Linked DNA regions of Homo sapiens. The protein of the gene in region 3 interacts with the protein of the main gene of each other region in a pairwise test. Each region holds a gene or a part of one and is shown on either strand. Other genes may lie near its edges.

Region 1 (6,752 bases), on a different chromosome or scaffold from region 3:
GGAGGTCGAGGCTGCAGTGAGCTGTGATCTCACCACTGCATTCCAGCCTGGGTGACAGAGTTAGATTCCACCCTCTCCCACCCCGGCAAAAAAAAAAAAAAAAGATGCAATCAAAGGGGCTGTTGGCCAGCAATGGCAGCAGCAGCGGCGGGCAGTCTGCCCAAGTGTCTTAGGAACCAAAAGCAAATAAAAGTGTTTCCATATATGCCACCAGCCAAGTGGCCATCCTAATTCAGAAAGAAGCTAGCCTTTGAGTGTCTGTCATGGTGCATCCGTTTCAGTATTATTTCCTAAAATGAGAAGCCCCTGTGTCAACAAGATCCAGGGGCTGGAGCCCAATGCCAAGCCTGTGTTGTCCCCAGCGACCCTGCAGCTGCTCGCTCTGATGTACCCTGTGCCATTCAAGGAGATGTGGTCCAGGAAAGTGAGCCTCATGGTTTTCAGAGAAGTCATTGTTCTGTTTACATTTTCATAAAACCTGTTTAAAATAGCTCCCCGTCTCAGGCTTTCAGCAGTAACAGTGAGCTGACTGGCAAGTTCGATGTTAGCTCCCGGGACACTCAGCAGCGATGGTGAGCATTTTGGTTTCCTTAAGGCCCAGCAAGACTTCCAGGGACATCTCTGGTGAAGCCAGAATGGAGACACCCGTGACCTCAGGCTGAAAGTCACTCGACATTGGTCTCTTGTGTTGATAGGGAAGGAAATCAGGCATTCCTATTTCTTTAAATAACAAAACCACTAATTGCCACTCAATGCTGGAATATTTTGGGTCACCTAATCATAGATTTCTCAGGGCATCAATACTCAAATATAGGCTGATTATGCCCCAGTTCAAATGGGAACTATTAACAGAGTGCATTTCTTGCTTGCTGGGTTTCAACAGACATCAGCCAAAAGAACAAAAGAGATGTCAGGACAGATTCCAGGAGTGTCGGAGCACATGTGTGGCACCCGCTCCCTCTGGCAGCGAATGTAGGAAGTCGCCAAATTTACCCACTCTTCAACAAGTCATTGTTTAAACACGGTTTTTCATTTTCTCAACTTTTAATAGCAAAAAGTGCCAAAGTCCTCAGAGACCTAACAGCCTTGGTCTACCGTGCTGACCAGGGTGAAGGCACGGCGAGGGACTCCTCCCAGACGTGCCTCTTGTGTGCCAGCTGGCTGTGGCTCGGGAGCAGACGCAGGCCTCTCCATTGTCCAGGGGAGCCTGGCGGCGCATCCCTCCTCTCCCACCTCCTGGCACTTCCAGCTGGGTGTCCCACATGTTGGATTCCGTCCCCACCACACTTCCAGAGACCGGAGAACTGTGCAGGGCCTAAGGCCGTTTGGATGAATTGTCAAAACAAGATGCTTCCAGTTACAGCGGCAGGAGCGGGACTGGGAGCACGGGCTGACGGCTGCTGGTGCCTTTCTTCCCACCTCGCTTGCCTGTTTCCGCTTGACCCTTCCTCCAGCTCCGATGAGAAGAGTATAAAGCATCTTCCTAACGGGTGTGTTTGCTATACGAACATAATGGACGTGAAGTGGGGCAGAAACCCAGAACTCAGCATTCAAGGATGCCCAGGAGAGCTGTCCCTGTTTTAAAGAGCTGTGTTTTGTTTTGTTTCGCATTTAGAGAGCAGACAAGGCACCCTTCTGCTGCGCTGATACGTTTCTTACACTGGGCCATTTTAGACCCCCAGGGAAACAGCCTTCCTGGAGCGTTGTCTGGAGGTTCCAGGGACAGGGCAGCCTCCCAGAGCCGAGCAAGAGCTCAAGGTACAAATGAGAGATTTGCTATACCGTGAGAAGTCAACAACTTAGCCACCACTTCCCCGCAATGGACCATGTAACAAATACCTCAGCAGGCCCTGCAAAAGGCCATGCTAGAGCTGAGGCGCACAGCCTGTGGCCTCTGTAGTTAGGGCAGGTGGGATGGAGACTCCTTGAGTGCACACACCTGAGCCTGCCCACACACAGGGGAGCAGCATCTCGTATGACGTCTGGAAGGAACTTCGGTTGTGTAAAGGGAGCCTTGAAGATACGTGCAAAAGGTGCTACCCCAATTTGGTGAAACTGACATTGGGCACGTCTTGGGCTTAGGAGAAGCGGCCGATGGTCCCGGCCTGCAGTGACAAACCCCCCTCCCCGCACCGCCCCCAGCACCCCCTCTCCTCTTCACCTCTTCCTGCTGGCCACGAGGAAGCCACTTCCTCAGAGAGACCCTACCAGATGCGGATGGAAACAGATGCACCAAAGCAAGCCCTGATGAAACCGCGACTTCCTAAGGTCTGTCTCCTCTGAACTTGCACCTGGGCCTCTCTGTGTTTGGTTCCAAGCACTTCCCACCTCAAACTCCCATTTTCAAACCACTGTATCTCTGCGCACATCTGCTACTTACCAGCCGCATACATGATGGAGGGTTTTTTGGTCCTGATCCAGTGGCCACACCTGTCTTTGAAATGTCTCACTGAACTCCAGTTTTAAAATAGATTCATTGCTTCAACACAGCAAGCCCAATGCACCCAGCTAAGACTGGCTTGACCGACAGCCTGGCCTTTGGTGGGGGGCTTCCTGGGGCCTGGGGAAAGCTGGCCACCTTCAACAGCTGGTACCTCTTCAACAGTGTGGCCTTTCAAAATGCAGATGCCACCAGGAGAACATGCCCACAGCTCACCACCTATGGATGCCATGGCTCTGGGCAGCTTTCAAAGCAGGTTCCTGTGGTCTCCTCAGCTGTTTGAGGGGGTAACAGCAAATCAGCCTCCATTTTAAAATGAAAACACCAGCCTCCAGATGTAGGGCCTGCTGGGTGTTGCTAGCCGCTGGTCCCCAGGCACGGTGCACTTTCTCCACCTCCTGCAGCCTCCCTGTTGTTTCTAGACTCTTGCACCTGGTGAGTGCAAGGATAGGTGACCCAGGGGCCTGCAGCCTTGTCCTCAGCTCCCATCTCCTGGACTGCCAGCCTCACCCTCTGCAGTTAGCATGGTTGGCCTGATGCAGGGATCCCGAGGGATTACTTTTTAGACCTTCTTTCACATTCAGAAAAGTAGTATAGATTCAGGAGAGGCAAGAAAATTATGCTGTCCATAGAAGTCACCCATGAAGACTGATGCCACCACCTGAAGGCTCATGATTGTTAAAAATGTCCACGGGAACCTCTCGTCCACAGGAGGTTTGTCTCAACACTTCCCATTTTTACGGCATTGGCATTGCCAAGCATGGGGAAGTATCTGCTCTTCTCATGTTAAAAGTGGCCCAGCTTTTCTTAACTCAGTCCAAGCTGACTTGTTTAGCTGCACTGGAATTTCTTACCAACCAAATATTTGCATCGAGCAAAGGGGGCTGTGTGCACCTCCCTAATGGCAGCGATGATGGCTGCTGTCATTCAAGCCCATCTTCAGACGTCACAGTCTGGAAGTGAAATGTCCACAAACATCTGTGGCAGAAAAGGCTATACGGACCACCCAGTTGTGCTGCAGCTTTACAGAGCAAGGAAGGGTTGTGGCAAATAAATGATTAACCTGCCTCGACTGTGCTGAGGGCAACAAAGGCCATCTCACCAAAGGATTATTCGATGCCATTAAATCATCCCGTGACCTTCCTGCTTCCGAGTCCATGGCCTTTGCCCAGGGCATGTACTCCCCTGAGAGGCCTTCTGCCTAGAAAGATCTATGACTGGGTTCCAAAGTTGAGGCCTAGGTTTTTGCTGGGATTTAGATATTTTCAGGCACCATTTTGACAGCATTCAGGAAAACGGTTATTGACCCCATAGACTAGGGTAAGAATAAAGGCAATAAATTTGGTCTGACTCAGAATATAGGAGATCCATATATTTCTCTGGAAACCACAGTGTACACTAAAATGTGAAATTGAAGGTTTTGTTAAAAAGAAAAAGATAATGAGCTTCATGCTTTGTTTAATTACATAATGATTTCCATTACGCTATTTCTGTGAAATGCAGCAGGTTCTTAAACGTTATTTCAGTGGCATGGGCTGGAAGCTTATCACAAAAAGCCATGTGTGTGGCCTTATCAGAACAGAAAGAGACAGGCTGGTGCCCAAGGCTGCTGCCTGCTCCACCTTTTGCCAGCTCTGGACATCTGAGGACGTCCCGGCAGATCTGGAATGGGGCCCTCAACTGACCATTTGCTTCTCAGAATTTCAGTTTGAGACATGAGAGGTATAATCAGTTACTTTTCTCCCCCCAGAGAAACCCTTTTGTGAGGGGAGAGGAGCTATGGTATGTGGTTCAGCTGAAACACATACAACTGCATCCTTTTGGAGTCCTTTGCCAACAAAAACAGACCAACAGACCAGATGGTGTCCATGTTCAATATCATGTCTTGATGGACGCAGCTGATGACCTCAAATACTTGAGTGGTCTCATGGCTGTTAGATGGATTATTTGAAAAAAAAAAAAAAAAAAGAGAGAAAAAATAATTGATTTTTACATCAGAGATAGCAAACTAAGACCTGGGGAGGGGGGTCAGCTTTTATTTTATTTTATTTTTTTTAAGTTTGCTAGTTGGGTCAAATGTGAGGAGGAGGGAGTCTACCTGCCACCTCTTCTCTTGCCCCTCTTCTGCCCACACATCCAGCATCCAAAATCCATTCATTTAATGAATTGATAAAGTGCCGTGCAAACTGGTGCACAAACAGGCCCCCAGTCCACGCAGCCTGGCTCCTAGGAAAAGTGGTGACCGGGCGTGGGGGGGCATGCCGCAGCCCTGGGACACAGTCGGGCACCTTCCCCGGACCCCCAGGCCTTGGCTGTGCCTCAAGTCAGAGAGGGTCAGCCTTCAGGCCCCGGAGACGAGTGACTGGCCGATCATTTCACAATAAAATCACTCACTTTTGGCAACTTCACTTTTTTTAAGGCACAGTCAGTTCCTTTTCTCATGTACCTCACAAAAGATGAAGACCATGTAGTACTCTTTTTGGTAAAGTTACAGTGTTCATGTTAAATATCACTTTTTTCTACATTGTGTGGTAAAAAGAACTACGTTAATAGCTATATCTTAAATACTGTGATTTGACTTTTTGAAAAATATCCTAATACAAATATTTTACTAACTTACAATCACTCATTTAATAAGAAACATTTGGATTCTTTTGAAATCAGTGTTAATTGACTCATATTCTTAAAAGCCTGGCTCTTGACCCTATTGGAAACACAAAGGAAGCTGAAATCAAACATCTAAAATACACTGCGTACACGTGTGCGTGCACACACACACACACACACACACACACACAGCTCTTCATTTCTCCTGAGCCATGCAGAATTTACTTTCAATGTGGAAATCTGTTCCCTTTACCACACTGTATATGCACAGAGCACAAGAGAGGCTATCTCTAGTCACTTCCACCAGCGAGGCCTTAGACTCCGTATTAGAGGCCACCGATTTCATACAACAGTGTTTCGCTAAAGACCCTTCACTATTCTTGTTTAGTAAATAGCTGTCTGCTCTTCAGGGAACTGTTACCTATGGGTTATTACCAAAGAACGCTGGCAATTGGAAATGTCCTGATGGAAATTCTTTGCACGTGCCGGTTCTCTGGCATCCTCCAGGTGGCCCAACCCAAAGCAGAAAGCAGAAACCACAGACCCCGTGAGTCTCCCCATACCTTGTTTCCAATAACTTGGCAAAACTTCTTGGTGCATATTGGTTACACCCTCTGGGATTCATAATGCCATTAGGCTAAAACCCTAAGAGAGAGGGTTGACAGAAACACACGCGAGAATGAGGCAGATCCCAGAGCAAGGACTGGGCCCAGACTCTCCACATGTGCTCTACTAGTGAGTGCCTTATACTCTCAGTATTTTGGGGCTTACAGCTTCTTATTTGTGCTAAAAAGGTGCAGTTCCAAAGTAGGAACTGCCACACAGGCCCCAGCATCCTCTCTCCAACTTCATACCTCTCTCCTGGTGGGGGGAGCGGGCATCCAGGACCTCCGGAATCAAGGATGTGCAGAGAAGAGCGAAAGTAATTTTTCTAGTCACATGAACTGATTGGTTCCAGGCAATTAGAAAATGGCTATAAAATAACCTTAATTTTAAAAAAAAATCTTGGGTCTTCGTTTTCCTATTAGGAGACTGAACTGACCACATGTATTGATTTATATCCTGAATATATGGGAACTTCTGTGTTTGGGATGTCCTACTGTAAGACTGATGAATGTACAGAGTTAATTTCAGGGTACAGTTTTGCCTTAATGGTTTTAAAAAATAAACTATTTTTTAAAATTTTTTGGTGAGTTTTGAGTGATGCTGCGAGATGGACTGTTTGGTCTAAAAGAACCAAGTCCCCAGCTGTGGGGTCCGCCCTCCGCCAGAACAGTCCCTGCGCCCCTCATGGAGGCTGTCTCCACCTGCACAGTCCCTTTTGTGTCCTTCAACATACAGAATGGATCAAGGACAATCTGGCTCCGGAATACGACATCCTTTCGTCTGAAGTCACATACAACGGGAACTTTTAAAGCAGTGAGCATCTTAAAGTCCATCAGTGCACAAGTCAGTAAAAACTCTTTATTCATTCCTTCATGTGACAGTTGGCCTTGAGTAGTTACAAAGACAGAGCAGTTCCTGCCTCTCAGAATTCTAAGCAGACATTCCAGAGCTCACAGATCAGTGTCCCACCAGCTGCTACCCTGGAAGCTTCAGGGAGATGGGGAGCCTGGAGTAGGGGGGTGCTGCAGGAACCCCCGGCAGGCAGTGGGGCCAGGCTTCACAGGCACCCAGGGCTGAGTGCGAGATGGCAGGGGGCAAG
Region 2 (7,395 bases), on a different chromosome or scaffold from region 3:
ACACCAGGGGAATTGGATTTGGGACTGCTCTTATCTAGGGATTTCTTTTTTTTTTTTTTTCTTTTTTTTGAGATGGAGTTTCGCTCTTGTTGCCCAGGCTGGAGTGCAATGGTGCAATCTCGGCTCACTGCAACCGCTGCCTTCTGGGTTCAAGCTATTCTCCTGATTCTCCCACCTCAGCCTTCCTGAGTAGCTGAGATATATTTGAGATATAAGTCACATACCATAAAAATTCACCCATTTTAAGTGTACAGTTCAGTGTTTTGAATATACCCATAGGGTTGTGCAGCCCTTACCACAATCTAAGTTTAGAACATTTTCATCATCCCCCAAAAAACCCTGTACTCATTAGCAGTCAGTCCTCATCCCTGGCCCTCCTCAGCCCTAGGTAATAACTAACCTACTTTCTGGCTGTCTGGATCTGAAGGACTTTTGACACACTTGGAAGGTTATACTTTTAGCCAACTTACCTTTACTTTTTCTGCATTATGCGCAGGGAAGGTGTGATGAGAAGGAAGAGTGACTTGGGCTTTGCCCTTAGGTTGTTTACAGGCCACAGTGATAAGGCCTCGTAGTTAACTAGTCGTCAACAGTTTATTTTTTTAATTTTTATTTTTTACTCTTTTTGAGACAGTCTCAGTCAGGTCACTCAGGCTGGAGTGCAATGGTATGATCTTGGCTCATAACCTCTGCCTCCCAGGTTCAAGCAATTCTCCTGCTTCAGCCTCCCAAGTAGTTGGAATTACAGGTGCCCACCACCATGCCCGGCTAATTTTTTGTATTTTTAGTAGAGACAGGGTTTTGCTATGTTGGCCAGGCTGGTCTCGAACTTCTGACCTCAGGTGATCCACCCGCCTCGGCCTCCCAAAGTGCTGGGATTACAGGCATGAGCCACTGCGCCCGGCCGTAGTCAACAGTTTAGAGTCAACAGCCCCAGCTGTCACTCACAAGTGTCATTCTGGGTGTGTTACATGCTCTCTCTGAGCCTCAGTGTCCTCATCTCTCAAATGAGATAATCATACTCACTTCATAAGGCTGCTGTCAGGATTAAATGACAAAATTTAATGGGAAGAATCTACCCAGGGCCTGGCTCAAGGTAAGGGATCATAAATGTCATTATTTGTCGGGCCGGGTGCGGTGGCTCATGGTTGTAATCCCAGCACTTTGGTAGGCCAAGGCGGGTGGATCCCTTGAGGTCAGGAGTTTGAGATCAGCCTGGCCAACATGCTGAAACTCCATCTCTACTGAAAATACAAAAACTAGCTGGGCATGGTGGTGCATGCCTGTAATCCCAGCTACTCTGGAGGCTGAGGCAGGAGAATCACTTGAGCCCAGGAGATGGAGGTTGCAGTGGTGGGGGCAGATGAACATGGTGGGTTTGACAGGGAGGCAGGCAGGTGACTTGGATGCAGGAGAGCAAGTGCGTCAAGCGCTCATCCATGGGTCCTTGCCATGTGACTGGGCAGGGTGGCCTGAGCTGAGAGAACTTGGCTGGGGTAGTCTTCGTGAAGGAGATGCTGCACCCAGGCCTCAAATGAGGAAGGATTTTGATTAGGGGAGATGGGCATGGGCCTTCAGGAAGAGGAGCCAGTGTGAGACTAGACTAGTAATCAGATTTGTTTTCCAGGCCAGTCTGGGAGGTAGATGGGAAGGCTGTGATGCCTCTAAGTGGCCTTGACTGTCATACCAAGGAGTTTGGAGTTTATTTAGGCCAAAGGCAAGAGAGGTCTGGAAGTTCTGGGGTATTTGTTGCCCTCAGTATTTGGGGTAGTACTGAAGAGGGGTGTGCAAGGTGAATGACTGTGGGTCTGTTGTCACTAGACCCAGTGAGGCCCAGAGCCCTCCCCTCCTTTTTATTTATTTATTTATTTTTGAGACAGAGTCTCGCTTTGTCACCCAGGCTGGAGTGCAGTGGTGTGATCTTGCCTCACTGGAACCCCTGCTTTCCAGGTTCATGTGATTCTCTTGCCTCAGCCTCTCAAGTAGCTGGGATTACAGGCATGTGCCACCACATCTGGCTAGTTTTTGTATTTTTAGTAGAGATGGGGTTTTGCCATGTTGGCCAAGCTAGTCTGGAACTCCCGACCTCAGGTGATCTGCCTGACTTGGCCACCCAAAGTGCTGGGATTTTGTGGCATAAGCCACAGTGCCCGGCCCATTTTATTTTTGATTGAGTCATGTTGGCAAGAAATGGGAGGCTGAGGGAGAGTTGGGGAAGGGCCAGGGGAGGGAGGCCCATTCCCATTTTATGATCTCAGTGGAAAAGGCTGCTGTGAGTTGATTCTGCTGCCAGGAGAGCCACAGAGATGGGCCCCATGAGTCACTGCTCAGTCCTGCAAGCTCAGCCCACAAAGCCTGCTGTGGTCAGCCACCCCTGGCTGGCTCCAGGCCCAGCTCCCCAATATTCCCCACTAGGCCTCAGTGTGTCCTCATTTCTATCTGTACCTTTGCCATCCTGGGCCATGCAACCTGTAGCTCTCGGCCTCTTCTGTCTCCTTTCAGGCTGAGTCTCTGAATCTGTCTCCATTTGTGACTCTGGTTTCCATGGGATACATAGATGTGGAGCCTCAGGAGGGCAGGGGTAGTGTGATCAGTGTCAGGCGCCCCAAAGCATTTATTCTGTGCCAGGCCCTGTGCTGGATGCTGAAAGTACGGAAGTGGATAACATACAGTCTCTGTTTCCATGAAGCCTACAATGCACATTCTCTGTGGAGTGGAGAAACCAGGGCCCAGCCCTGCCTCTATCTCAGTATGGCTGTACCTCCCCTGAATCTGCCTGCTGTGCCCAGGGTGCCAGGTCAGCTATAGCCTGTGGCTTGAGGCTCTTCTTTGCCTCTGGCATTCACAGGGGTATGTGTGCCCGCCAGCAGGTCCCCCCCGGCTCTTAGGGCTCCTGGGGGACTTGGCTGGTGGGTGCTGGTGGGCAGCAGAAGGGGAGGGAGGGAGCAGAAGGCAGTGACTCAGTGGGGGTGGCCCTGGGACAGAACTGGGGAGGAAGCCAAGGTTGGATGATGCTTCCTGAAGCCAGGAGGGTGGGAAGAGAGGTCTGGCTGGGAGTTAGGGATGGAGCAGGACAACTCCAAGGCTCCCCTCTGGCAGCCAGACCTGCTCATGAAGAAGGCTCCTCGGTAGCTGCCTGAAAGTCTGGACTCTGGGGGCTGGGCTGGGCTGGGTGGGGAGATTGCTGTTGGTCCCACTGTGCCTGTTGTAATCCCCAGGTTCATGAAAGAGGTGCCTGCCTTAGAGCCAGGGAAGCCGTTGCACCCGGTGCCCCCTCTCCCCAGGGACCATGGGCCTGGGCACACTGTGGGGCTCAGGGTCTTCTCCTGGTCGCAGAGCTGACCTTCCCACAATCTTCCCACAAATTCTGGGGAGTGTCGGGCCAGGCCCACATGCCCTAAAGGGACCTCAAATCGCACAGCTACCCACTTGGGTAGCTTTCATCAGTTCAGGATTCCCTGACTGCGGGTGAAATGAGGGGGCAGGGCACCAACACAGCCCGAGTGCTGGCAGCGGGTGAACGTATAACACAGGGAGTCTTCCCCAGTCCTCACGGCAACCCCAGGAGAAAAATGACTTTCCATTTTTACAGGTGAGGAGGGTGAGGCTCAAAGAGCAGAGTTCCTGGAGCGCCCCCAGCAGGTAAGTGGAGAAGCCAGGCCTGGGCTGGGGGCTCTGGCTCCAGAACCCCACCTCAGCACCAGCCTCCTGCACCGGACTTTGTGGAGAAGGGGGTAAGGGGGTGCCAGGGATGGCAAAGGGGTAGAGGATCTGGTGGACTCTGGCAGGCCTGGGTCAGCTCCACCCATTGGTCTCACTCCCACCCGGATGGCAGCCCCATCCCACGTGGGATCATGCGACCTGTCTCTGGGTGCCCGCGGCGAGGCAGCACCCCGCTTCCCTACACAGAAGGCCTTCCCCTCCCGTCGGCTCATTCAGCCGCGGAAGCCCCTGGGAGACCCCGCCCCGCCCCGTCCCGCGGTGCCCCCCGCGCACTCACCCTCGCTCACCCACGCGGCCTTCCTGGCGGGAGAGCGCTTCCGGCGTCCTCGCCAGGCCCGGGGAGTGGGCACGGTGGAGCTGCCGACCGTTGGTCGCTGCCCCAACCCACGCACTGCGACGCCGCGGGTGAGGCGCGCGGTCTGCGGGGCCCGGGGGTGCGGCGGGGCGGGGCTGGCGGGCTGTCCGGGCCCACGGAGAGGACGGCGGCGGGCGGGGGTTGCTGCAGGGCCCGCACCTTGTCTTCCGCGCCGGCAGGGCTGTGCCCCGTCGAGACCTGCTCGGGCTGTGGCTCCGTCCTCCGGCCTCCAGGGGGCGGCGCGGCGCTGCGCGGCGCCCCGGCGGCACTGCCCTCCCTTCCCAGCGGCCAGGAGGCGGTGTCCCGTGACGCCGCGCGGCCGCGCTGTAGTGGCCGTCGAGGCCGCCGTCTGTTCGAAGGCTGTCCGACTTCACGGTTCCCCGCGGCTCGGCCCGGGGGCGTGAGTGTCGCCAGCGGGCGACGGGGGGGCGCGCGGTAGGCCCTGCAACAAGGCCAGGGCCTGGGGGGGCCGGCAGGAGAGCGAACCCGAGGCATCGTGGTGCCATGGCGGGGCCGCCCCCACGGGCATGGGCCTGCAGAGCGTGGCCGTGAGGACGCTGAGGGTGGGCGCGCACGGAGCAGAGGCCCACGGGCGTCCGACGGGGGACCTGGACAGAGGGACACCCTTAACGTTATTCCCTCTTCCCAGGCCTGAATTGCAGTTCCTGTGCCCTGGCACTAAGACTGGCACCTCCTGCGGCCCATGCCCTTCGCCTGCATTGCCCACTGAGTCCCACTCGACTGTCTTCAGCGCGGTTCACACTGAGACCCAGCCCTCTCCCGCTGGCCCCGAGCAGGCCCACCTTTAGGAGGGCGTGATGGAAAGGCCCCTGGAGAATGGGGATGAGTCCCCAGACTCTCAGGGCCATGCCACCGACTGGAGATTTGCTGTGTGCAGTTTCAGGGATGCCTGGGAAGAGGAGGAACCTGCTTCCCAGATGCACGTTAAGGACCCAGGTCCTCCAAGACCACCAGCCGGGGCCACCCAGGATGAGGAGCTACAGGGCAGCCCCTTGTCCAGGAAATTCCAGTTACCCCCAGCTGCAGATGAGTCGGGGGATGCCCAGAGGGGCACAGTAGAAAGCTCCTCAGTCCTGTCAGAAGGGCCAGGCCCCTCTGGAGTGGAGAGTCTCCTATGCCCCATGTCCTCCCACCTCAGCTTGGCACAGGGTGAGAGTGACACCCCAGGGGTAGGGTTGGTAGGGGACCCAGGTCCAAGCAGGGCGATGCCATCTGGCTTGAGCCCTGGGGCATTGGACAGCGACCCTGTGGGCCTTGGAGACCCTTTATCAGAAATATCAAAGCTGCTGGAGGCAGGTAAGGAAGGCTGGGCTAGGGAAGTCTGGGAAGGGAATGGGGATGCCTGGAGAGATGAGTGTCAAGACTTTGGAGGTCTCTGACCCTACTCAGGCTGAAGCCCGGGTCCAAGTAGGGGTCTCTGGATAGGTGGTCCAAGGCAGACCCAAGTCATTTCCCTTCCCAAGCCCCCAGTGGATCCGGCCTCCCTAAGCCTGCTGACTGCCTCCTGGCCCAAGACCTCTGTTGGGAGCTGCTGGCCAGTGGTATGGCCACCTTGCCAGGTAGCCAGGCGGGCCTAGAGGCGGTGGAGGTGGAGTGGCCCAATACGGCAGGAGTTCACTGCTTCCTCCCCACAGGGACTCGGGATGTCCAAGGCCGGGCAGTGCTGCTTCTGTGTGCCCACAGCCCAGCCTGGCTTCAGTCTGAGTGCAGCAGCCAGGAACTCATCCGCCTCCTGCTGTACCTGCGAAGCATCCCCAGGTTTGAGGGAGGGGGTTGGGAGACTGAGCCTGAGCCAGCTGTGAGGACTGGGAGTCAGGTACTGAACTGAAGCTCACCCCTTTAGGCCCGAAGTACAGGCACTGGGACTGACAGTGCTAGTTGATGCCCGAATTTGTGCTCCAAGTTCTTCCCTCTTCTCTGGGCTCAGCCAACTACAAGTGAGTACAGGATTGTAGCTCCCCTCATTCCTTTTCTTTTCTTTTTTTTTTTTTTTGAGACGGAGTCTTGCCTTTGTCGCCCAGGCTGGAGTGCAGTGGCGCAATCTTGGCTCACTGCAAACTCTATCTCCCCGATTCAAGTGATCCTCCTGCCTCAGCCTCCCAATTAGCTGAGATTACAGGCACCTGCCACCATGCCCAGCTGATTTTTGTATTTTTTAGTAGAGAGGGGGTTTCACCATGTGTTGCCCAGGCTGATCTCGAACTCCTGAACTCAGGTGATCCTCCCGCCTCGCCTCCCAGAGTGCCGCAATTACAGGCGTGAGCCACCATGCCCTTTTCTGTAGAGTTGGGGATAGTGCTGAGCTCAGGTTCCTTGCAGGAAGCAGCCCCAGGGGCCGTGTACCAGGTGCTGCTAGTGGGAAGCACGCTGCTGAAGGAAGTGCCTTCCGGGCTGCAGGTACTAAGCCCAGTTGGCTAGGGGTAGAGGTGGGGTGCCTCCCCCCAGGCCTGGGTCACAACACCTTCTTCTCCTGTAGCTGGAGCAGTTGCCTTCTCAGAGCCTGCTGACCCACATCCCAACGGCGGGGCTGCCCACTTCGCTAGGAGGAGGCCTGCCTTACTGCCACCAGGCCTGGCTGGATTTCCGAAGGGTCAGTACACTGGGTGGGGCATGGGGGCAGTCATATAGGCAACTTGGGATCATGGAGGAGCCTCTCTGGGGCTGGCTTGAACCAGACAAAGCTGGCTGCAGTGGCCTGGAACCCAGGAAGCCCAGGACCAACACTGCATGCTGCTCCGGTCATGCCTGCCCCTGCTTACAGCGGCTGGAAGCTCTACTACAGAACTGCCAGGCAGCTTGTGCCCTGCTCCAGGGGGCCATCGAAAGTGTGAAGGCTGTGCCCCAGCCCATGGAGCCTGGGGTGAGTGTCCCCTCCCAGTCCCTCCATGAATGCTCCCTGTCTCCCTCCTTCTCTCCCATGGCCACCTCCACAGCTTATTGCCCTCAATCACAGGAGGTCGGTCAGCTGCTACAGCAGACAGAGGTCCTGATGCAGCAGGTGCTAGACTCGCCATGGCTGGCATGGCTACAATGCCAGGGGGGCCGGGAGCTGACATGGCTGAAGCAAGAGGTCCCAGAGGTGACCCTGAGCCCAGACTACAGGTGAGTGCAAGCCCGGCCCCCAGATCTTGCCCCAGCCCACCATATTCTATGCCAGGACTCATCTGGCTAGCTCAGAACCTGGTAGGACTGTGGTGCCAGGACAGGGTGGAGTGGTGCAAGGCAGGGGGTCTAAGATGGTATACCCTACACCAGGACGGCAATGGACAAGGCTGACGAGCTATATGACCGGGTGG
Region 3 (7,022 bases):
CACTCTGGGAGGCCAAGGCGGGCAGATCACCTGAGGTCAGGAGTTCAAGACCACACTAGCCAACATGGTGAAACCCCATCTCTATGAAAATACAAAAATTAGCCAGCCATGATGGCAGGTGCCTGTAATCCCAGCTACTCGGGAGGCTGAAGTGGGAGAATAATTGAACCTGGGGGCGGAGGTTGCAGTGAGCCGAGATTGCACCATTGCACTCCAGCCTGGGGGACAGAGCGAGACTCCATCTCAAAAAAAAAAAAAAAATCGTTAATGATGTGCCAAGTAATATTCATGCAAAAAAAAAAATTTTTTTTTTTTTTTAGACAGAGTCTCGCTCTGACGCCCAGGCTGGAGTGCAGTGGTATGCTCTCGGCTAACTACAGCCTCTGCCTCCCAGGTTCAAGCAATTCTCATGCCTCAGCTTCCCGAATGGCTGGGATTACAGGCACCTGCCACCATGCCCAGCTAATTTTTGTATTTTTAGTAGAGACAGGGTTTCACCATGTTTGCCAGGCTGGTCTTGAACTCCTCAGGTGATCTGCCTGCCTCGGCCTCCCAAAGTGCTGGGATTACAGGTGTGAGCCATCACGCCTGTAAAAAATACTTTTATCCCTAAAACCAATTTGGCAGCGGGGAAACAATCTTGGTTTAAGGGGCAATGTGAAAGGGATGAGACAGGATAAGACTAGAAGGCTTTATTTTTCCATTCTTTCCACTGGTTTATATGCTCTCCACCTCCCAAAGAAGCAAACCTAGTCTGATGAGGTTGCCTTGTGCGGCACTCTTCAATCAGCAGGTACGCTTTCCAATGGCTCTCCTTGGTATCAGGCTCGGACAGGGAGTAGCACATTGGTTACTTTGTGAGTCACTTCAAATCTCAATCCAAATGCTGTTATTTTGTAATATAGACAATGAGAGTGTCAAAGAATTATTACTAACAGCTCAAAGTGCAACTATGATTGGCCAGAATTCAAAAACGGCCTGTCCAATTACTGGAGAAAGTTACTTTCAAAACTGGCTTTTAGACCTTTATCACATGTTCAGAATGACAGACTTTATAATTAAGATGATAATGTACTCAGTCTTACCTGAATGATAAATATCTTGGGTTTTCCAACCAGGCTGTGACACTTGTCTCCTTTGAACAAGCCAGTTAATGTCTGAATTTCGATTTTAGCATCATATGCATAAATGTGATTGCCTTCGCCATGGCTCAGGAAGACACACACAAAGCAATCGGCATCTGCGTGGCTAACAGTTGACACTATAAAGGACCCAAAAGAGAATATAGAAATGAAAATATGATGCTTGTTATCTACACATAAAAATTCAGTTTATTAACACAAGAATAAAGTTACATCCACATGATTGGGGAGGAGGAAAATTTGTGGTTTTGTCTTTTTTGTTTTTTTGAGACAGAGTTTCACTCTTGGTGCCCAGGGCTGGAGTGCAGTGGCGCGATCTTGGCTCACTGCAACCTCCACCTCCCGGGTTCAAGCGATTCTCCTGCCTCAGCCTCCCAAGTAGCTGGGATTACAGATTTGAAACCATATCCAGCTAATTTTTGTATTTTTAGTAGAGACGGGGTTTTGCCATGTAGCCAGGCTAGTCTCGAACTCCTGACCTCAGGTGATCCACCTCGCCTCAGCCTCCCAAAGTGCTGGGATTACAGGCATGAGCCACCATGCCCGGCCTACTCTTTAATAAGTGTAAAATATCTGTGATGAAACAACTTAGTCTTTAATCAAACAATATACCGTACTGTATCTTATTTTTTTAAAAAAATCCAAATTTATTAAAGTTCAGAGTAATAGAGTTTGACCAAATTTCATTAGCCTTTCTAAAACACAGAATGATGTGGAAAACATAAAGGGATTACGATAGGGAATCTCACTTAAGATCCAAGTTATTTTGGCAATAAACTAAAAATTTCCTTGAATCAGCAGAGACCTTAGAGCAGAGTGGAAAGACCCAGAAACTGCTGCTCAACAGCTCCCCACGCATTGCTGCACTTTCACTATAGGAATACAGCACTTAGGGCCAGGCGCAGTGGCTCACGCCTGGAATCCCAGCATTTTGGGAGGCCGAGGCAGGTGGATCACTTGAGGCCAGTGTTCAAGACCAGCCTGGCCAACACGGTGAAACCCCATCTCTACTAAAAATACAAAAATTAGCTGGGCATGGGGGCGAGCTACCTGGGAAGCTGAGGCAGGAGAATTGCTTGAACCCAGGAGGTGGAGGCTGCAGTGAGCTGAGATCACACCACTGCACTCCAGCCTGGGGCGGACAGCGAGACTCCATCTCAAAAAAAAAAAAAAAAGATTATAGCACTTAGAGCTTCCAAAAGAGTACTCAAAGCCAGGTGCGGTGCCATGAGACTGATGTCCTCCAAAGCTTCTGAGCAAAGTAGAAAAGCTGGTAAAAGCAGCCAAAGTTAGAATGATGTGCAGTTTAAAGAAGAGCTCTGAAGAAAGTTTAAAGTAATTATGCAAATATAATGGTTGGCATGCAGCGATGATTATAATATAGGTTGTTATAATTAGAATACCTACCCCCTATTGACGCTGTGAGAATTAAAGGAGGTAATGTATGTAAACCAACACTATTTGGAAACCAGTGAGAAAATGAGGCATGAAAGGAGTCAATGAGAAAATGAGCCTGTTGACTGCCCAGCACCTGTAGTACTTGCATTTTAGGCTTTTACTGCCAATTGAAGGGGTCATTTCATTCATTTCTACAAGAGACTGTAACTAGTGGTATGCTAAATATAAACTTTAGAGGCATAATTATTTGCAAGGGTCTCTAAATGTGCTGGGTAACGGAAACACAGCAGCATACCCAAAACCTGTAACCTGTGCTAAATTAATACTTTTTTTGTCACACAAGTAATTACTTGTACCTGTCTTTACAGATAGGATAAAGGACTCGGTTTCATTAGAGGAAGATGAACTATATGATAGCAAAACTACCTACCCTCATGAATTTTGAGCAGTAGTTCTTCTGCTTTAAGATCATTAAAGCATTTCACTTCAAATCCTAGATCTGAAAACCTAGTGGTATATTAAATGAAATGTTAGCCTATAAACTTTTCAAAGTTGTCAAATACCCTTACTTTGGAAGAATCTATACACATTTTAACGACACATAAATTTGCTTTCTTTAGGAGAAAAGAAATGAAATATAACAATGGTGGTTTTCCCTTCATTCACCATGGTCGGAAAGGATTTAATCATAATGACAGCCGATTCAATTTAGAGTGTTGTTGTCTACTATGCAAATGTTAGTACAAATGCAAAAGCCTGTCAACATTTAATAGAACAGAGTAAGGAAAATAACTCAGGCAAGTTTTTTTTTTTTTTTTTTTTTTGAGACAGAGGCTCACTCTGTCGCCCAGGCTGGAGTGCAGTGGCTTGATCTTGGCTCACTGCAAGCTCCGCCTCCTGGCTTCATGCCATTCTCCTGCCTCAGCCTCCCGAGTAGCTGGGACTACAGGCTCCCACCACCACGCCCGGCTAATTTTTTGTATTTTTTAGGAGAGACAGGGTTTCACCATGTTAGCCAGGATGGTCTCAATCTCCTGACCTTATGATCCACCCGCCTCAGCCTCCCAAAGTGCCGGGATTACAGGAGTGAGCCACCATGCCCGGCCAACTCAGGCAAGTTCTTAAGGGAGGCTGCATCAAAGCAAGGCCCATGCTCCAACACTCTTGATCTGTTGTTACCTCATTAGTGTTGACAAGTTATGATAAGTAACTTTTCCCTACATCTAGAAGTCTGGAATTTTTTTAATTTTTAATTTTTTTTAACTTTTCATTTGGAAACATGGAAAAAAATTATTTTATTTTTTATTTTAGAGACAAGGTCTCACTCTGTTGCCCAGCCTGGAGTGCAGTGGCATGATCACAGCTCCGTGCAGCCTTGAACTCCTGGGATCAAGCAATCCTCCCCCTTCAGCCTCCAGAGTAGCTGGGACTACCGCCACCATGCCCAGCTAATTGATTTTTATTTTTTGTAGAGACCAGGTCTCACTCTGTTGCCCAGACTTGTCTCAAACTCCTTGCCTTAAGTGATCCTCCCACCTTGGCTTCCCAAAGTGCTGGGATTACCAGCATGAACCACCACACCTGGCCAAAAGTAATTTTATCACTTAACTGCCTCATCTTGATAGGTAGATAAAACTACTACCTGCGGGTAAGATTGTCTCTATCTGCGCAGGTGCCCCGCCTTTCTGGCAGTGTTAAGTGCCAAAAGAACCTCTCATGATTGAAGATTAAAGCAATTCCTCTCCTCCTGTGGTCCATTTTGTACTTTTCTGCCGGATCAAACATTTCTCTGTTAATGAAAAGTTGAAAAACAATCACTTCAAGTCATATTAAATAATGAGCCCCTCCAAGTTCTAGGTCAACATGTAGATAGAGATCTGAGCTTCCTCCTTGCCAGGCTGATGTTCCATGGGTGTGCTCCAGGAAAGGCCATGCTAATAAGGAAAGTCCTGAAATATCTCTCTGCCAATTGGTAAAGAGCAGCCATGTGCCATCCTGACACATCCCTAACCCTCTGCCTTGATGTCTTTCCCCTGGCCCCCAGGATCCAGCAACCAGGAATAACCACGAGGCTCAGAACCAAGTTCTAGCTCTAGGCTCATGCCATGCCAATTAATATGCATTCTGAACATCACTCCGGGTCCCTCGACAACCAGGGGCAGCACAACCTGCCTATCTACAAATGAGCTCCCCAAAGGCTAAAACTTGGCCTACTCAGTTTTACTTCCTAGCTCCCAGGACCCATTCTTGCTTTGATTTCTGTAGGCTGATCATGACCATCAAAGGAAGAGACCTTTATTAGAAAAGAGCACAGCTTTACCTTTTATAGAAGGCATCTGTTTCTGTCATGTTTTCTTCCCCACCTATTAAAAAAAGTTGATTTTTGTTAATTATTTTTTACTTATGGCAGTAAAATATAGTAGGAACTCCCATCCCCCTTCTGACTCCCAAACTCTTAAGACCCTTCTGTTTTGGTTAGTTTAAAAGCCAAAGTATGTGAAGAAAAGGAAATGAAGGGAAACTGCTTACTAATAAACAAACTATAACAGCTCTATGCTTTCTCACCCCCAACTTGACCTGCAAAATAACAATCTTATAAACAGAAATGGAGAAAATATTACACAAATGCATTCACTGCAAAATATGCCTAGAGTAACAGTTCTGTGATTACGGAGTTGAAATATGAAGTTGCTTTGTTATGCAGAAAATGTTTTTGCACATTTTCTGAAAAAGAATTAAGTCCTACAGGAAAACTGAAATATAGTTTGTGGTTAATGCTGGATTAGCAGTGGTGTAAGCCTGGAAGAGGTAGAAGTTTGGGTGGAGGAAGGGAAGGGCAAGGGCAAAGACTTGGACCTTGGATCTCCTGCATGACACATCTGCATTTCCAACCCTGTAAGGGGAGCCCTCTGCTCTCCATTCTCAACTGGACTCCCTACTCCCTGGACAGCCTTCCACTGAATTCCTCTCTACTCTCTAGAGCAGTGCTATGTCATGGAAGTGTCTGTGATGGTGGAATTGTTCCGTATTTGCACTGTCTCATAAGGTAGCCACTGGCCACATGTGTCTACTGAGCATTTAAATGCAGCTAATGCAACTGAGGAACTCGATTTTATTGTCAATTTAAATGAATTGGCCAGTGGCTTCTACACTGGACAGTGCAAAGTGTGGCATCTTCTACAATAAAGGCCCCATCCACTCATGCATCTGTTTTTACCTGATAGCTCAACAGCTTAGAGGGGAGACAGCAATGAATAAACTGAAATATTAGCAGTATAGCAAGATGCACCCTTCAGTTGAGGAAGAATGACCCTAAAGCATGGACTCTTACCCATCATCTCCTAGCCAAAAGGGTTGGTTCCCCTCTCCTTAGAGATCTCCCCATTACTAGCCCCCATCACCTGATTGATCTAACCTCACTTCTCCTCAAAAAAAATACAAGGTGGGGAATTCAGTTCAAGTCCCTTTTAGCCTATTCCTCCTGGAACTGCCCCAAGCAATGAGACCCAACTAAGACCCCACACTAAGGCATCCTCTGTCTGTACGCCCTAAGTCAGTTTTGCTCAACCTTGGGCATCAGAATTCCTGGTGTGCATGTTAAAATGCAGATTCCTGGATCCTAACTGAGGCAGAATCAGAATCTTGGAGGAAGGAGGTGACAGCTGCATTTTTCACAAAGTGATTTTTACACTAAGGTGTGAGAGCCAAAAGCAACCTCTCCAACTGGTCCTCCCCGCTGCATGGCAGATGAGAAAGCTGTTTAATCCGACCTTTGCCCTAGGTGAGCACAGTAACGAGGTACTTCCTACTCCACACACTGCTCTATGAAGACAGCACAGGGATTTCACTCTTCCCATTTTCAAAAGCTGTCGGAATCTACTGCCTTTTGATAACCTCACCTGCTTATCTTTTAACCAATTAGAGTATAAAGAAACAATAACTTCAAGAAAATTAAATCCATATGTCACAACCATCCTCCTCACATGCCAAAATTCTGCACAACTTGGAAAGCACTCATGTCTCAGTGTCCTCCTCGGTGGCAGCAGGCCAGCGGCTCACCTCCTGTGGCTTCTGCTCCATACTGACTGCTGAGCCGAAGGCGGCTCACAACCTAACTCATGGAAGCTGTGCCAAATGGCTGCTCAGCAAACTAACTCATATCCCTCAGGGTGAAAACACTGGAGATGTATTCTTGCTTGGGTCTTTAAAACTCTTGTTTCTCATATTGCCAAAGAAGTAGCTTCCCAGTTGTTAGCTGACACATTAAAATTAATAACTTAAGATGTGAGTTTGGGTTGTCTCAAATATGCCCTCACATTAGTCAAGACCTACAGGTTTAGGAATGGCTAACTAGTATTAAGTAGCTGCTCAAGAAAATCTGTTTAAAATGACGTTCTGGCCGGGCATAGTGGCAAGCCTATAGTCCCGGTTACCTGGAAGGCCAAGGCAGGAGGATCTCTTGAGCCCAAGAGTTCTAGGACA
Region 4 (7,417 bases), on a different chromosome or scaffold from region 3:
ACGGCCACGAGAGGGTGGCATGCTCCGCCTTCCCACGCCCAGGCCCGCGCCGGCCCCAGGCTGCTCCCAACCCCCAGCCTGTGCGCGCATCCCCCAGTCCTGCGTCTTTTGCCTTGCTCGGCTGGGTCCTGCTGTGGTTGGGGACCAGGACTCGGGGGACCACCTGCTCTGCCCCTTTCCCTCCCTGCCCAGAATAGCGCTGGCCGGGTCAGCGTCCAGGACCCACCAAATATAGCATGGCCCTAGCTCCTGCCAGCTTCAGGCCTGGTGCCCTCCCCGTGAGGGGGTGGGAAACGTCAAGGGGTTTGACTGAGAGGACACACACCCCTTGCTGGACCCGAAAAAGCTTCTGTGACTTCGGGGGCCCTGGGGCCTGCTGAGGCAGAGCCGCCCCCTCCCCTGCAGGGGGTGGCTCCAACTCGGGCCTGGCAGACTTCCTAGCACAGGGGCCGGTGCCAAAGGCCCTCCTCCCACAGCCCTGATCCCGTACCGGTCCTGGCAGCTCCTGGCCTCAGTAGGAAGCGTGACTAGGCCTGGAGGAGCCTTTCCTCCTAAGAGTCTCCCCACCACCCCACCTGCGGGCATTCCTTGTCTTCCCCCTGCCCCAGCACACCAGGGGCAGACTGAGGCAGGGGCCTCTCCTAGGGCTTCCCAGAAGGTGGGCTTGGCCACAGCTCCCATCTGCTCAGTGCTCCCTGCCTGACTGGGCCCCTCCCCATAAATAGCCCTGGACAGGCGAGGGGCTGATCAGCCCATCAAAGCCGGACACTTTTGGGATCCCACACAGCATCGAAAGGTCAAGGCCTCGAAGTGAGGTCGTGTGGTGGTTGGGGGAGGTCGGGTGTCTTCTTGCCCACAGTCCTGACCCTGGGCATGGCTGAGGAGGTCGCAGGGAGTGTGGAGGGTGAGGCAGGGTGAGCTGGGTGCGAGGGTGTAGCAGTGTGTCTCGAGAGCTTTGTTCTTGAGTGGGTCTGCCTCGGGGGCTTTAGAGGAGACCCCAGAGGGTGGCCAGGAGGATGGGGGCCAGGGCCAGGGTGGCCGGGGTGGCAAGGCCGGTGCCGTTGCAGAGGTCGTACTGGCAGCAGGAGGTGGTGGACGCGTGCTTGGAGTAGCCATCATACACAGTCTCGAAGCAGCGGGGCACGCAGGACTTACTGACCTTCATCCTGGTGGGGGTGTAGTCTGCAGAGGGGCGGGGCGGTGAGCCAGCTCCGCTAAGAGGGGCAGGAGACCCAGCTGGCCCCACCCCAGCATCCACAGCCATCAGGGCAGGGCCCCTCAGCCTGGAGCTCCCAGACAGGATCCGGGAACAGGAGAGCCTCCTTCCTCAGGACCCCCGCATGCTCAGGGGCAGGGCAGAACCTCCCCTTCGTGCTCCCCAGGCAGGGCCACGCAGGGCCCCCAGACTCACAGGTGCGCGTGGTCATGCAGTAGGCAACCATAGCCGGGCAGCGCATGGGGTTGAAGCAGTTGTCTCCGTTGTAGGCACACACGTGGCAGTCCAAGGCCTGGGCTGGGGTTGGCAGATGGGCGGGAAGGGAACGGGGGTCACAGAACATGAGAGGCCCCTCCTCCAGCCCATCAGGCCCCCAGCCCGTCACCTTCCCCGGGGCAGGGGGCTAGAAGGAGGGGTTGTCGCTGGGAATTCTAGCCTCCTTCCCTACTGTCAGCCCATCTGCCCTCAAAGTGGGTCTGCCCATCCCTCTGTCCTTTGTCCATCTTACCCAGAGGTAAGCCCATGAGGACCACCAGGATCAGGGTGAGCAGGGGCGTCATGGCTGCAGGCAGGAGGGCAGCGTGGGAGTGGGGAGGTCAACAGCAGCTAGCCCTGGATCCAACTCAGGGGTGGCGCACAGAGGATCCAACTCAGGGTGGTGCGCAGAGGACGTGGGGCCGGCCCTGCCTCCCGGAGCTCCTGGTCTACTGGGAGTGCTGCAACCCTGCACAGCAGGTGGCAAAGACAGGTGGTCAGTACTGGGCCTGAAGGACCCATGGGGGCCTGGGCAGGGATGATGGTGGGCAGAGGGGCCACCTAACTCAGTGGGTGTCAGGGAAGGTTTCCTGGAGGAGGAGACACTTGGGATGGGACAAGAAGGGAGAAGAGATCAGGACATTTCAATCAGAGACCAGCACCTGCAAAAGCTCAAAACAGCCTGTAGCGCTGGATGGAGGAGAGATGGGGGGAGGATGAGGGGCAGTGCTAGAGAAGGAGTAGGGATGGGCAGAGGGGCCTTAAATACCAGGCCTAAACAAGGATTTTACCCAGGGGATGGTTGGTGCAGAGGTCCCATGGGAGGTGGTCTGCAGCCCCATCCCAAGCAGGGCCCTGGGGGCCGGATGGCTGGCCATGGCAGGACTGGGCCCAAAAGCTGGGTCTCTTCTCGCTGTTCCCCTCCTCTCTGCTCCTGGGGTGTCCCTACTTGGGGTTCCTTCTTCCAGAAGACCTCCAGAGCCCTGGTTAGGGTTGTCTGAGTCCTCGGCCACTGCAGAAGCTCCCCAGCAGGGATGAGCTGTGCCCAGCTTGGGGGGAATGCATTTTGAGCCCCTCCCAGGAGGGCACTTGGGCCAGACAAGAAGAAGCATTTCCCCGGCTGGGTCTGGTGTTTGGAACGGGAATGCCCTCTCTGGAAAGAGGTTTACAGTGGGGAGGTGGGGGTTGGATTACGGCTCTCCTACCCCTGCCGGGATACTCGGCCCTCGGTCTCCGTCCTGGAGGACTAAATTAAACTTACGCCTTCCCGAGAACAACAAATCCGTCTCTCACGACACATTTGCCCAGGCCAACCCCAGGATGCCAAAGGCCAGAGTCAGGCCTGCGGCTTCGAGCTTCCCAACCCCCTCACGGAGAGCCCCGCCCCAAACACTGCGGTCCCAGGTCGAGGGGAGGGCTCTCGGCGCGAGCGGGACTATCAGGGTGACCTCACCTGTGACCTTCACCACCGTGAGGTACCGCCGCGCCTGGGAGTCACCCGCGGCCGCTCGCCGGTAGGTGCCTGCCTGAGTCTAATCGTAGGCGTGTCTGTGTGTCCCGCAGCACCCGTGCCGCATCGCCTGATGCTCACCGCAGGCCCAGCCCAGTCCCGCCCCCGGAACAGCCCGCCCAGCGCGAGCTCACCGCAGGCCCCGCCCCAGGCCTGCCCCGGCCCCACCTCCTGAGCAACCCCCCGAGCCGAGCTCACCGCAGGCCCCGCCCCGGACCCGCCTCCTGGGCTACTCACCAAGCCGCGCTCACTGCAGGCCCCGCCCCTGCCCCGCCTCCTGGGCACCCGCCGAGCCGAGTTCACCGCAGGCCCCGCCCCGGACCCGCCTCCTGGGCACCCGCCGAGCCGAGTTCACCGCAGGCCCCGCCCCGGACCCGCCTCCTGGGCACCCGCCGAGCCGAGTTCACCGCAGGCCCCGCCCCGGACCCGCCTCCTGGGCACCCGCCGAGCCGAGTTCACCGCAGGCCTCGGCCCGGACCCGTCCCCGGACCGCCGGCTCGCCGGGCAAGCGCTGGGACCCCGAGGCCAGTCCAGGCATCTGGATCTCCGACACAGAGGCAGCCACGCAGTGATTCCCTGGCGACCCTCAGACTCACGTGTTCAGCCCGGACACTCCGCAGGCTATCTTCACCGCGTCCCGCGGCAGCCCAGCCTTCCCCGCAGCCGCCTCCGCCCACTCGCCCGCGCCGCGTCGTTTGTCGGCCGGCACCAGCCTTGCGGCCCCAGCTCCGCCCTCCTGCAGCCCAGGCCCAGCAGCTCCGGAACTGGCGCCCTTTGGCGCACCCGCCTCGCTGCCCATGGCCTCCGCCTGCCTCCCCTGCGCTCAGCTCCCGCTTCTGGTCCCTGTAGCAAAGCTGGAAGGCAGGCCTGCAAGGCAGCCCCTTGCTCCGTGGTCCCTCTCACCATCATAATGTTCATATTAAATAATTATCTTTACATAACTTTGAATACTTATGTTATTGGTTCTGTTTTTGGCAAAATGTAATAAAATTTCATGGGTCCGAAAGTTTTCATTTTTTCCAATGTGAGAAAGAAAAATAAAACCTTTTCTTCTACCCTAAAGCTCATTTTTTTCTTTAAAACATTTTTGCGGGCCTGAGGTACAGAATACACCATGCCTGCTGGGCAAGCGGGCTCCGGTTCCAGGAAATCCTTCGGTCCCCAGCAAACTAGGCCAGTTAGTTGTTCTGTTTGCCGAGAGGTAATGCGCACCCTCCTGTGCCAGGTCCTAGTTGGGGAGAAGGCAAAGAATAAAACCAGCAGACGTTCCAGAATATTCCCACCCCATGGAGCTCACACTCTGGTGGGATAAGGGGCGTGGAAGGAACGCATAGGTCAGAACCAGAGTATGTCGCGGTCTTCAGCCTCAGACCACGATGAATTAATACGGATGAAACTTCCCTTGCCCGCCCGCCAGCGCTCGCCTCCTGCTGTGTGGCGTGGTTCCTAACCGGTCTGTGACCCAGGGGTTGGGGACCTTTATGTTAAAGGAAGTTCTTCAGGCAGAAATACGGATCTACACAAAGGAATAAATGACACCAGAAATAGGAAATAGAAGGTAATTTTTTTCTTATTTTTGAATCAAGTTAAAAGATAGTTGATTACCTAAAGCAAAAATAATAACAATGTATTAAGGAATTTATAGCAAATGTAGAAGTAAATTGTATGATAATAGTAGTGCAGGCTGGGCACCGCGGCTCACGCCTGTAATCCCAGCACTTTGGGAGGCTGAGGCGAGTGGATCGCTTGAGCCCAGGAGTTCAAGACCAGGCTTGGCTGGGCAACGTAGAGAGACCTCATCTCTAAAAAAAAAAAAATACCAAAAAATTAGCTGGGTGTGGTGGTGCACACCTGAGGTTGCACCCAGGAGGCTGAGGTGGGAGAATCACTTGAACCCAGGAGGTGGAGGTTGCAGTGAGCTGTGATCACGCTACTGCACTGAAGCCTGGGTGATAGAGCAAGACGCTGTGTCAAATAAATTTAAAAAAAAATAGTAATACAAATAGACCAGGAGAGGGACAATGGAAGTTCACTGTTGTAGATTTATTCTACTCTATGTGAAGTGGCCTACTATTTCTTGGAGGTAGACTAGTAAGTCAAAGGTGTATGCTAAGACGCTAAAGTGTCACTAAAAAAAGACAAAGAAAAAAGCAAAAGTCAAAGCACTGTAGTTAATAAATCAACAAAAGTGATGATACAGAATTATTTATTTATAAAAGCACATGTTACAGAGACTGCAGAAGAGGAGAAAGGAAAAAACAATGAGACAAATAGAAAACAAATAGCAAGATGACATATATTTAAACCCAGCCACAGCAATAATGACACTATGTCATCTAAACACTTCAATCAGGCTGAGCACGGTGGCTCACACCTGTAATCCTAACCTGTAATCCCAACACTTTGAAAGGCTGAGGAAGGTGGATCACTTGAAGTCAGGAGTTCCAGACCAGCCTGGCCAACATGGTGAAACTCCCTCTCTACTAAAAAATACAAAAATTAGCTGGGCATGGCGGTGGGTGCCTGTAATCCCAGCTACTTGGGAGGCTGAGGCAGGAGAATTGCTTGAACCTGGGAGGCAGAGGTTGCAGTAAGCTGAGATGGTGCCACTGCACTCCAGCCTGAGCGACAGAGTGAGTGAGACTCTGCCTCAAAAACAAACAAAAACATCTCAATTAAAAACAGAGGTTGTCAGATTGGATAAAAATAGAAACAGCCAAGTATATGCTGTCAGTGGGAAACTCACCAGACATGTAAAAACACAAATAAGATAAAAGTAAAAAGATGGAGAGAGATATACTATGCTAACACCAATTAAAAGAACACAGACATGACTACGTCAATATCAAAGTAGGTTTAAAGCAAAGACTATAATCAGAAATAAAGAGGAGCATTACTGGCCAGGTGTAGTGGCTCTCATCTGCAATCCCAGCACTTTGGGAGGCTGAGGTGGGAGGATTGCTTGAGGCCAGGAGTTTGAGACCAGCCAGGGCAAAACAGCAAAACACTATCTGTACTAGAAAGAAAGAAAAAAAATTTAAAAAGAGGGACATTACCAAATGATAAATTGATCAGTTCATGAAGAGGACTCAGCAGTTCTAAATATGTATGCACCTAACAATTAAGCTTCAAAATACACAAAGCAAAACAAACAACATCTGATAGAACTGAAAGGAGAAAAAGAAAATCCACAATAACAGAGATTTCAACACTCCTCTTTCGAGAACTGATAAAAAATAGACAAAAAGTCTGTAAGGATGAAGACGTGGATCACATTACCAGTCAACATGACCAACTTGATGTTTGTAGGACACTCCACCTCACAGAAGGGGAACACACCTTTATTTACCAATAATGTCCTCCAAGGCAGACTGTATTCTGGGCCATAGAACAAATCTCAGTAAATTTATACGGATTAAAATCATGCAGATTATTTGCTTGGACTACAATGGAGCTAAATTAGAAATCAATAACAGAAATATATCTAAAAGATCATCAAATATTTAGAAACTGAGTAATAACATATTTCTAAACAACTTATAGGTCAAAGGAGAAACCAAAAAGGAAATCAGAAAATATTTCCAACTGAATGAAAATGCAAACACAATTCATCAAAGTCAAAGGATGCAGCTGAAGTGGGCCCTGGAGGGAAATTTTGCACTAATGCTTCTTTTAGAAAAAAAAGAGCTAAAACTTCTTTTGGAAGAGAAAGAAGTTCTCCAAAAAAAACCACCTAAACTTTCACCCTCGGAAACCAGAACAAAAAGAGCAAATCAAACCCAAGGTAAGCAAAATGAAGAAAATAGCAAAAATAAAAGCAAAAAAAAAAAAAAAAAAAAGTGAGGTAGAAAAAGAAGATAGAGAAAAATCAATGAGAGCAATGTTTGAGAATGCCCCTCCAGGAGGAGGACCTCAACAACCCTCCCCAGTCCGGCTTGTCCATGGCAGGACCAGAGAAAGGACCTCTTGCAAACCAAAGCTAGCTGCCTCTGAGTTGGGGGCTGGCCAGTGGAGTGGGCGGCTGGGGCTGCCCCTCCAGCCCTCCGTGGGATCTGGCTGTCGAGACTGGGCGTTAAGGGAGGCTCTTGGGCCCCCCTGATCTGACTGAATAATGCTCCTTTCTTTCTCCCACCTGGCCTTTCAGCCAAGATGCTGTCAGGCGTCATCAGCCCCACACAGGGCCTGCAACCTTGTAGGTGGGGACAGCGCAGCTGGCCAGAGGGGGCCGGGTGGGAGCTCAGGCCCGACTGGACGGTGAGGAGAGCAGAAGTTCCGAGCAGGTGGAGGGAGGATCCCTTTTCAGAGGACCTGGTCAGTTGCTTTTGCACAGTCTCCCTGACAGCTGCCCTCTGTCTGGACATTGTGCTTTGACTGCTTTTAGCATTTCCATTTTTAAGGCATAGAGAAAATTGCATCCGGTGATGGGCCAGGAGAGT

The links.
Region 1: the proteins of CASP6 (region 3) and PPARA interact in binary tests that used the Homo sapiens proteins (3 or more experiments, as listed by UniProt).
Region 2: the proteins of CASP6 (region 3) and PLEKHG4 interact in binary tests that used the Homo sapiens proteins (3 or more experiments, as listed by UniProt).
Region 4: the proteins of CASP6 (region 3) and LYNX1 interact in binary tests that used the Homo sapiens proteins (3 or more experiments, as listed by UniProt).

The regions. Positions count from the first base shown.
Region 1 is NC_000022.11:46,237,524-46,244,275, forward strand, and holds the end of PPARA (peroxisome proliferator-activated receptor alpha), read left to right. Parts: 3' UTR 1-6,232; downstream 6,233-6,752. UniProt on the Homo sapiens protein: Ligand-activated transcription factor. Key regulator of lipid metabolism. Activated by the endogenous ligand 1-palmitoyl-2-oleoyl-sn-glycerol-3-phosphocholine (16:0/18:1-GPC). Activated by oleylethanolamide, a naturally occurring lipid that regulates satiety.
Region 2 is NC_000016.10:67,275,149-67,282,543, forward strand, and holds the start of PLEKHG4 (puratrophin-1), read left to right. Parts: upstream 1-4,383; 5' UTR 4,384-4,478; exon of another isoform or gene 4,479-4,727; 5' UTR 4,728-4,896; coding exon 4,897-5,395; exon of another isoform or gene 5,396-5,562; coding exon 5,563-5,658; intron 5,659-5,733; coding exon 5,734-5,857; intron 5,858-5,942; coding exon 5,943-6,036; intron 6,037-6,418; coding exon 6,419-6,496; intron 6,497-6,575; coding exon 6,576-6,689; intron 6,690-6,860; coding exon 6,861-6,959; intron 6,960-7,052; coding exon 7,053-7,201; intron 7,202-7,354; coding exon 7,355-7,395. UniProt on the Homo sapiens protein: Possible role in intracellular signaling and cytoskeleton dynamics at the Golgi.
Region 3 is NC_000004.12:109,693,440-109,700,461, forward strand, and holds part of CASP6 (caspase-6 isoform alpha precursor), read right to left. Parts: intron 4,904-7,022; coding exon 4,861-4,903; intron 4,330-4,860; coding exon 4,183-4,329; intron 3,048-4,182; coding exon 2,971-3,047; intron 1,262-2,970; coding exon 1,086-1,261; intron 1-1,085.
Region 4 is NC_000008.11:142,774,182-142,781,598, forward strand, and holds the start of LYNX1 (ly-6/neurotoxin-like protein 1 precursor), read right to left. Parts: upstream 3,022-7,417; 5' UTR 2,925-3,021; intron 2,842-2,924; exon of another isoform or gene 2,733-2,841; intron 2,351-2,732; exon of another isoform or gene 2,263-2,350; intron 1,941-2,262; 5' UTR 1,777-1,940; coding exon 1,725-1,776; intron 1,514-1,724; coding exon 1,412-1,513; intron 1,183-1,411; coding exon 986-1,182; 3' UTR 1-985. Other genes in the region: LYNX1-SLURP2 protein precursor, read right to left, coding at 1,412-1,513, 1,725-1,776. UniProt on the Homo sapiens protein: Acts in different tissues through interaction to nicotinic acetylcholine receptors (nAChRs).